2 linked regions of the Homo sapiens genome follow. The protein of the gene in region 2 interacts with the protein of the main gene of each other region in a biochemical or structural test. Each region holds a gene or a part of one and is shown on either strand. Other genes may lie near its edges.

Region 1 (4,856 bases), on a different chromosome or scaffold from region 2:
TTCGACCCATCAATCCCATTACTGCATATATACCCAAAGAAAAACCGATCATTATACCAAAAAAAAAAAAAACCCACATGCACTTGTATGCTCATTGTGGCACTATTCACAATAGCAAAGACATGGAATCAACCTAGATACCTATTAACGGTGGAGTAAAGAAAATGTGGTACGTATCACCATGAAATACTATGCAGCCATAAAATAGAATGAAATCATGTCCTTTGCAGCAACATGGATGGAGCTAGAGACCACACATAATTCTAAGCAAATTAATGTAGAAACAAAAAACCGAATACTTCAAGTTCTCACTTGTAAGTAGGAGCTAAAGATTGGCCACATAGTAACATAAACAGAGGAACAACAGACACCATGGACTACTAGAGGGGGTGGGTGGGAGGTGGGGCGTGGGTTAAAAAAACTACATATGGGGTATTATGCTCACTATCTAGTTGTAATATACCCATGTAACAAATCTGCATATGTATCCCCTGTATCTAAAATAAAGTTGAAATTTAAAATAATCTACTTAGCCTTTTTGTGAATCACTTTTTAAAAATCTGTAAGATGCAGATGATTAGCCATCTCACAGCAACACTGTGATTATAAATTGAAATATTGGATGTAAATTTCTTTTTTCTTTTCTTTTTTTTGTTTTTTTTTTTTTTTGTTTTTTTTGAGACAGAGTCTGACTCTGTCGCCCAGCCTGGAGTGCAGTGGCATGATCTCAGCTCACTGCAAGCTCTGCCTCCCAGGTTCACGCCATTCTCCTACCTCAGCCTCCCCAGGGGAGCTGGGACCACAGGCGCCCACCACCACGCCTGGCTAATTTTTTGTGGTTTTTTTAGTAGAGACGGGGTTTCACCGTGTTAGCCAGGATGGTCTTGATCTCCTGACCTCGTGATCCACCTGCCTCGGCCTCCCAAAGTGTTGGGATTACAGGCATGAGCCACCACACCTGGCCTGGATGTAAATTTCTTAGCATGGTTTGTTGGGTGGTTTTATTGCCACCATGTCATCGTCATCATCATCATCATCATCATCATCATTATTTAAAGCCCGAAATTCTCTTCTGAACATCCTTTTGGCCCCAACCCAGGAATTGTGAAATACAATATTCTAAATGTTATTTTAGGAATGGTCTGTAATTGCAGTTTTGATTCCCAATTTAAACTCAGTTCTTCAGGAGATTTTTGGTGTTATTGTTAATTTCATGTAGTTAAATTTCCCAGATTTAGTGTTGCTGTTCTTACAATTTTTTATTAGAAAATTCCAGTTTAATTGCATCGTGCCACAGGATGTGTCTTATTTTTATTTGTTGGAATTCATTGAGGTTTACTCTGTTAGCCAGTATGTGATGTGACTAAGTGTTTTATGTGTTCTGTGCACATTTGAAAAGAATGATTATTCTGTGTTTTGGGTTTCAAATATGTATATATTCAAATGTGATATTAAAATGCAGTCATTATGGTCAACAAAGAACTGCTTATATGATAGTGGTCCCATAAGATTAAAATACCATATTTTTACTGTACCTTTTGTTACAAATGTTCAGATACACAAATACTTACCACTGTGTTACAAATGCCTACAATAACATGCTGTACAGGCTTGTAGACTAGAAGCAGTAGGCAATACCATATAGCCTTGGGGTGTAGTAGGCTATACCATCCAGGTCTGTTTAAGTACCCTATGTAACGTTTGTACGACGATGAAATTTCTCAGAACTTATCTTCATTGCCATGCAACACATGACTGCATATATATGTAAGCACATATTCAATTTTGTAAGTCATAGAATTCAAGCTCTTTATGTACATTTTGTCTAATTAATCTGAAAAAATCTTAACAGTGGTGTACATTGAAATCTAACACCATATTTGGAGTATATCTCTAATTTTTTTGTTTTACATATTTCGACGCTTTATGTTTACCCAAAGTTTTCTGATTTTCATGCCTTCATTGAGTGCTCTTTTTATCATTTTGTAAAAAAGTAATTCTTGATCTATTTAATAGTTGCCTCAATTTTTATTTTGTCTGACAAAATTAACACTGACACCTCACTTTCTTTTAATTTGCATTTGCACAGTATTTTCCTATCCCTTTATTTGTAACTTTATGTGATTAAGTTTTAAATGTGTCTCTTGAAAGTGGGATATAATTGGACTGGGGAGAGAGAGTTTGTTTCTTTAGGCTTTTTTTGTTTCCCTTTTTTAAACTGAATCTGAGAGTCTCTTTTATTTTAATGTGTAATCTTACTACAGAGCTTAATTGATTCATCTTTCTTCTCACATGTTTTGTTTTTCTTATTATGGCTCCTTAATTATTCCTTTTCTTGTTTTCCAGTCAACTTATTCACACTTTCTTTTCCTTCTTAATGAATCATAGGTTTCATTCATTTTATTTGATATTACTGGTGGCTATGTAAAGAATTTTTCAAAGCAATATTTGAGCCTGTATTTTTCCTCTTCATTGATTGCAAGAATGGCACTATCTGATGCCTCTTCCCTATGCAAGAGGTGAGGTGCTAGGTGCTCTCAGAGTGATTGACTATTTAGGGGACATCATAGATCATTATATATCATCTCTCAAGATTTTTTTTTTTTTTTTGAGATGGAGTCTTGCTCTGTCATCTAGGCTGGAGTGCAATGGTGTGATCTCGGCTCACTGCAACCTCCGCCTCCCAGATTCAAGCCATTCTCCTGCCTTAGCCTCCCGAGTAGCTGGGATGACAGGCACGTGCCACTATGCCCGGCTAATTTTTGTATTTTTAGTACAGATGGGATTTCACCAGGTTGGCCAACTGGTCTTGAACTCCTGGCCTCAAATGATCCACCCACCTTGGCCCCCCAAGGTGCTGGGGTTACAAGTGTGAGCCACTGCGCCCGGTCTAAGATTTATCATTTGCTTTATTTCAAAATCGTATTAACAACCGTCACTGAGACTTAAAATTTGTCTTGTTTTGTGGCCTGTCAATTTTTTTATCATCATGGTCTGCTCCCCCAACCCCTCCAGGCTCTTGCTCTGCCCTATCTTGAACTCCATTCTATTACAGCACTAAACCTTTTCAGTCCCCTGAATGTCCCATGCGCTCTCTAGCTTCCAGGACTTGGTGCAGGCTGCTTCCAATGCCTTCCAAATTTTCTTTTTTTTCTTTTTTTTTTTTAATTTTGTTATTATTATACTTTAAGTTTTAGGGTACATGTGCACAACGTGCAGGTTTGTTACATACGTATACATGTGCCATGTTGATGTGCTGCACCCATTAACTCGTCATTTAGCATTCAATAAACGTAATCCAGCATATAAACAGAACCAAAGACAAAAACCACATGATTATCTCAATAGATGCAGAAAAGGCCTTTGAGAAAATTCAACAACCCATCATGCTAAAAACTCTCAATAAATTAGGTATTGATGGGACGTATTTCAAAATAATAAGAGCTATCTATGACAAACCCACAGCCAATATCATACTGAATGGGCAAAAACTGGAAGCATTCCCTTTGAAAACGGGCACAAGACAGGGAAGCCCTCTCTCACCACTCCTATTCAACATAGTGTTGGAAGTTCTGGCCAGGGCAATTAGGCAGGAGAAGGAAATAAAGGGTATTCAATTAGGAAAAGAGGAAGTCAAATTGTCCCTGTTTGCAGATGACATGATTGTATATCTAGAAAACCCCATCGTCTCAGCCCAAAATCTCCTTAAGCTGATAGGCAACTTCAGCAAAGTCTCAGGATACAAAATCAATGTATAAAAATCACAAGCTTTCTTATACACCAATAACAGACAAACAGAGAGCCAAATCATGAGTGAACTCCCATTCACAATTGCTTCAAAGAGAATAAAATACCTAGGAATCCAACTTACAAGGGATGTGAAGGACCTCTTCAAGGAGAACTACAAACCACTGCTCAAGGAAATAAAAGAGGATACAAACAAATGGAAGAACATTCCACGCTCATGGGTAGGAAGAATCAATATCGTGAAAATGGCCATACTGCCCAAGGTAATTTATAGATTCAATGTCATCCCCATCAAGCCACCAATGACTTTCTTCACAGAATTGGAAAAAACTACTTTAAAGTTCATATGGAACCAAAAAAGAGCCCGCATTGCCAAGTCAATCCTAAGCCAAAAGAACAAAGTTGGAGGCATCACGCTACCTGACTTCAAACTATACTACAAGGCTGCAGTAACCAAAACAGCATGGTACTGGTACCAAAACAGAGATATAGACCAATGGAATAGAACAGAGCCCTCAGAAATAATGCCGCATATCTACAACTATCTGATCTTTGACAAACCTGACAAAAACAAGCAATGGGGAAAGGATTCCCTATTTAATAAATGGTGCTGGGAAAACTGGCTAGCCATATGTAGAAAGCTGAAACTGGATCCCTTCCTTACACCTTATACAAAAATTAATTCAAGATGGATTAAAGACTTAAATGTTAGACCTAAAACCATAAAAACCCTGGAAGAAAACCTAGGCAATACCATTCAGGACATAGGCATGGGCAAGGACTTCATGTCTAAAACACCAAAAGCAATGGCAACAAAAGACAAAATTGACCAATGGGATCTAATTAAACTAAAGAGCTTCTGCACAGCAAAAGAAACTACCATCAGAGTGAACAGGCAACTGACAGAATGGGAGAAAATTTTTGCAACCTACTCATCTGACAAAGGGCTAATATCCAGAATCTACAATGAACTCAAACAAATTTACAAGAAAAAAACAACCCCATCAAAAAGTGGGTGAAGGATATGAACAGACACTTCTCAAAAGAAGACATTTACGCAGCCAACAGACACATGAAAAAGTGCTCATCATCACTGGCCATCAGAGAAA
Region 2 (5,326 bases):
GCAGTGGCGCGATCTCCGCTCACTGCAGGCTCCGCCCCCCGGGTTCACGCCATTCTCCTGCCTCAGCCTCCTGAGTAGCTGGGACTACAGGGAGAGCACGTTTCTTAAAAGAGAAAAAGGATGCAGGGTGGCATATCTGGGTTGGCCATGAGTAGTGGCTGAATGGTGCCCTCCCCAAAGAGATGTCCACACAGAACCTGTGAATATGACTTTATTCAGATGAAAAGAGCCTTTGCAAATATAGAGTTTGGATATGAGATCATCCTGTATTAGGGTGGGCCCTGAATCCAATGACAAGCATCCTTAGAAGTAGAGGTCCTGGCGCGGTGATTCACACCTGTAATCCTAGCACTTTGGGAGGCCAAGGTAGACGGATCACAAGGTCAAGAGATCGAGACTATCCTGGCCAGCATGGTGAAACCCCATCTCTACTAAAAATATAAATATTAGCTGGGCGTGGTGGCGCATGCCTGTAGTCCTAGCAACTCAGGAGACTGAGGCAGGAGAATCTCTTGAACCTGGCAGGTGGAGGTTGCAGTGAGCCGAGATCACGCCACTGCACTCCAGCCTGGTGACAGAGCGAGACTCCATATCAAAAAAACATATAGTTAAAAAAAATAAATACAATAAAATTAAAAATTTGCCAGGCATAGTGGTGCACATCTGTAGTCCCAGCTACTTGGGAGATTAAGGCAGGAGGATCACTTGAGCCTGTGAGTTCCAGGTTGCAGTGAGCCATGGTTGACAGAGTGAGACTGTCTCATAACAGAAAGAGTGAGAGAGAGGAGAGGGAGAGGCAGCACAGGGAGAGGAGACCATGTGAAGACAAGAGGCAGAGACTGGAGATGCCCACAAGCCAAGGAATGCCAGGACCGCCAGAAGCCCCAGAAGTTGGGGGAAAGCCCCAGAATGGCTTCTCCCTCAGAGGCTCCGCGAGGAACCAGCCCTGCAGACACCGGTTTCAGACGTCTGGCCTCCAGAACGGATGCTGCATTTGTACTGTTTTAGGCCACCCAGTCTGTTATGGTGGCAGCAGCAGGAAACCAACACAGGGTCTCACTGGCTTGCCGCCCTCTGATCCCTGCCTCGGCTTTCTTTACTGGACCTGGTTGGTGGTGCTGCCAGACTCCTGCCCCAGTGCTCCTTCCACACCCCAGATGCAATGGTAGGCGTGTGGGTTTGCCCAACCCACTTTCTCTAGTGTTCCCATTTCACAGGGGAGGACACTGAGGCTCCCAGGGTTCCTGCTCCCCACCCACTGTCCTCCCAGTCTCCTCTCTATTACCTGCCTTTGATCTGGGGCATCCCCACCCAGCGGCAGCTGGTCCTAAGGCCACCAAGAGCCTGGTCATGAGCCCTGGTGCTGCAGAGTCAGGGCATCTACCGTGGGATGGAGGCCAGGACCCATGAGTGGCCTGGAGGCTGTGCTGGCAGGGCCCAGGCCAGCCTCCACCCTGCAGAGGAAAAGAGGAGGGCAGCGGGGTCTCCTCTGTTACACAACCCCCAGGGAGGGCCGGGGCCACTCCACGGCTACCTCCTGGGGCACTGCCTCCAGTGGTCTTCAAGGCTCCCAGGGCCTGGGGAGGGACCTGGCCGCTCTGACTGGGCAGGTGCTGCTGACAGCTTGCAGCCCAGCAGGCCGGGGTGATGGCAGGGCCGAGCCTCCGGCCACACAGCAGAATAGGGATCAAGGAGGCCAGGAAGCTGCCCTGTCTTGCCTGCAGTGCCCAAGCCCAGAGGGAAGGAGAGAACAGATGCCCAGACACGAGAATGGACTGCCTCCCCATTTCACAAACATGGAAAGTGAGGCTCATAAAAGAAGGGCACCAGGTATATCTGATCCCCACAGACACTGAGACAGATACTGAGAGTGACCACAGACTAGTCACTCTCCCAATCAGTGTAGCAGATCCTTTCTAATAAGGGGCCCTGGTGGAGTAAGGTGGGACCACCCTGATGCATCTCAGGCCAGGTTCCAAGGAATGACAAGGATGGGACAGGCACTGAGATGCGGAAGCTTGGAGACAGGTCAAAGTGACATTCCTGGGTCGGGCACGGTGGCTCACGCCTGTAATCCCAGCACTTTGGGAGGCTGAGGCGGGCGGATCACGAGGTCAGGAGATCGAGACCATCCTGGCTAACACGGTGAAACCCCGTCTCTACTAAAAATACAAAAAAAAATTAGCCGGGCGCGGTGGTGGGTGCCTATAGTCCCAGCTACTCGGGAGGCTGAGGCAGGAGAATGGCGTGAACCCGGGAGGCGGAGATTGCAGTGAGCTGAGATCGCGCCATTGCACTCCAGCCTGGGCGACAGAGTGAGACTCCGTCTCAAAACAAAAAAAAAAAAAAACAAACAAACAACAACAAAAAAAAAAACAAAGTGACATTCCCCACACAGAGGCCTGCCCCAGCCTGAAGACAGTGAGGGAACAAGTGATCCTGTTTCTAGGAGGTCAGGGCTAAGGGAAGAAGAGAGGCTAAAGGAAGAAGGACCCCAGTGGGAGCAGCAATGAGCGCCTCCCCTCCGAGCTCCAGCGTGTCTACTCTGCCCTGAGTGGGAGCCAGGTTCACCCAGAGGTCCCAAAGCCCCAGGCTGCGACTCTGAAGCCCCCCAGACCCTCTGAGCTCTGGGGATGGAGGCAGGGGATCTGGATTATCCCAACTCCCAGAGGGATGTGACGAAGGAGGCACCCAGGCGAGGACTCGGTACCTCTCCTGGTACTTAAACCAAATCCTGCAATCCAGGATCTCTGTCTCAACGCAGCTAAAATGACAACGAAAAGAACCCATGACTCACGGACTTCGGTGGCTCTGTGCATTCAGATGCCACAAAGATCCTACAGTCCCAAGACTCAGCCCTCAATCCATGCCCAGGACGACAGGATGAGACCCCCTGGGTCCAGTGGGCACGGGCACCACACAGCAGTGCGCATAGTGCAGGGGACGCCATGACATGTATGCAATGGTCCCATACGAATTTAAAAAAAGGCAACTTAGATATTAGCACGTTTCTATGCCTCCATTTACTTATTCACGTCTGCATAAGCACTGAGAAACCCAGAAGCCTCTCTAATGATGGTCACCCCAAGGACAAGAAACTCTGGGGGTGGGGGAGGCAGGGGGTGAGGAGGAGAAATTCACTTTTCCCCTTACAACTGTTTATCACTTTACTGTGAGCACATAACACTCTTATAATTAAAAACTGTTATATTCAACAAAATATGACAATGCCCGTGATGGCTCATGTGTTTTTTGTCTATTTCATCCTGCCCCACCCACTGAGATGTCAGCCCCCCAGGGCAGGGGTCTTGTGCAGGCCACATCCCCAGCCACCTGCTGAGCTCAGGAATGAGGCCAAAATCCTGCATCCTCAAAGCTCACCACGCAAATACCTGACCTCTAGGACCTCTAGGATTCTCTGAGAAGGGAAAGGAGGGGATGGAAAGAAAGGGACATCCAGGGGACAGGCTGGGGGTGGCTTGTGATTGGGGATCCCCAGGGCCAAACAGGTGGCTGTGACCCCTGAGTTTGCCCCTCCCAGGCCCTATTTCCACAAGACCCAAGACTGTCAGAAGCCCCACTTTTGAGCATCCCCAACCTGCCCCAGATCCCAGCACCCCTGGAAGCCCCAGGTCTCCATCTGCCTCTGCCCTCCCTGTGATCATGCCAGGACCCGCCCCCTCCGGCCACGCCAAGCTCCCCTGGACCCTCTCTGGCCTCGGCGCCCCCCAGCCCTGAATGGAAGCCTGGCTTGGCCCGGAACCAGGAGCCCCGAGGCAGAGGGTCGGGGCGGGGTTGGCTCGGCTGCTGCCACACAGAACGCCAGCTGCTGGCAGCGATTTATTTTTGCTTTAAGTGCTGGAGAATTGCAGGCCTGGAGCCGCCAGCTCGGGCCCGGCTGCAGCTGGAGCAAGCGGGGCGGGCAGGGGCAAGGGCACACCTCCGGCCACCAGGCCACTCCATCCCCCTTGACCTCTCCTGCCCCCGGCCTTTCATCCTCTCTATCATACACATCTCAGTCTCCACATGCTCCCTTCTCCCCGGCCCCTCCCCTGCCAAGTCCCCAAAAGCTGCCTGGAAGCATCAGGGACAGAGGGTCTGTGGCCTCAAGGCTGCGCCCCAGCCTTCCTCCGGGAACTGTGTGACCTCCGGCTGTGGGGACCCTCTCTGGCCTCAGGCTGCCCGCTCCCACAGTGGAGGTGTCACGTCGCACCCTCCTGTACACCCTTGGGGTGGAGGCAGGGAGGGCTGAGAAGTATCCCTGCTGCCAGTCCTCATGTTACCTGGTTTCCTTTTCTGCCCCCACTCCCCAGGTGAGCCCCAGGAGACAATCTCCCATCCTGGCACACCTGGCTGCACACCTGGCCAACCGGGCACACCTGGCTGAGGCCCAGGACCAGAACCTATCTGCTCCCCACAAAAGGGGCCACCAGCCCTGTCTTTTCTGAGGCAACATGGACATCCAGGGGAGGAGGGACGGGCAGTGCTCAGGCAAGCAGAAAGCATGCCAGTCTCTATAGTTGCAGAGGTGATCACTGCTGGCCACTAAAGCCGCTGGAGTTGATCATTGCAAATCATAAACATTTTTAAACATTTTATAACGTGGGTGTCATGTTCCAAAAAAAAGACTGGAAAGGAGAGGTGAAATGCATTGACATGAAACTCAATGACCGTGGGGAGTCTGGAATGCTTAACTGGGCAAGAAACAGAGACACTGTCCCCTCCCTGCCAGCCCCATCCCCTCAGCCGCCCTCCAAACATGTATGCTGAAGGCAGGAGAAAGGATTCAGCCATCAGCTGAGATATGAGAGGCCCCACGCCCCAGGCCTCAGTTTGCTGGGATCTGCAATGGGAACGGCTTGTGATCCTCAGAAGGAATCAGATGGGGACATCCTGAGCTGAAGCAGGCCAAGTGCTAGAGGACACAACAGGGCTTGGAGCTTGAAGCAGTGAGGGTACAGATATAAAGCACTCCACCCAGAGTAGGGGCCTGAAGGAAGCCCCAACTCCCTCCCACTCAGCCAGACAGACAGATGGCAGGCCAAAGGCTCAGAGAAAAGGTCAGAATCCAGCTCTGTCCACCAACAAGCGCCACAGTTCTTGGACAGTGACCTCTCTGAGGCTCAGTTTTCTCATCTGCAGAATGGGCTGACAATGCTGGCTACCATTGCTACCAAGCACTCACTGCATGTCAGGCACCAGGCCTGGCTGAAGCAGCCCATTCACTCTCTGTGTTTACTGGGCGCCTGCCATCTCCTGCCTACCGCTTAGGCACTGGGGACACAGCTGTGGTAGAATAGGTCCAAAAAGAGGAGATCCTATTCCA

Evidence for each region. Proteins that work in one complex are often made in the same cells at the same time.
Region 1: the proteins of KCNJ12 (region 2) and IL16 interact in a test that uses a peptide from one of them, tested with the Homo sapiens proteins (one large-scale study listed by IntAct).

The regions. Positions count from the first base shown.
Region 1 is NC_000015.10:81,203,060-81,207,915, reverse strand, and holds part of IL16 (pro-interleukin-16), read right to left. Parts: intron 1-4,856. UniProt on the Homo sapiens protein: Interleukin-16 stimulates a migratory response in CD4+ lymphocytes, monocytes, and eosinophils. Primes CD4+ T-cells for IL-2 and IL-15 responsiveness. Also induces T-lymphocyte expression of interleukin 2 receptor. Ligand for CD4.
Region 2 is NC_000017.11:21,381,795-21,387,120, reverse strand, and holds part of KCNJ12 (ATP-sensitive inward rectifier potassium channel 12), read right to left. Parts: intron 1-5,326. UniProt on the Homo sapiens protein: Inward rectifying potassium channel that probably participates in controlling the resting membrane potential in electrically excitable cells. Probably participates in establishing action potential waveform and excitability of neuronal and muscle tissues.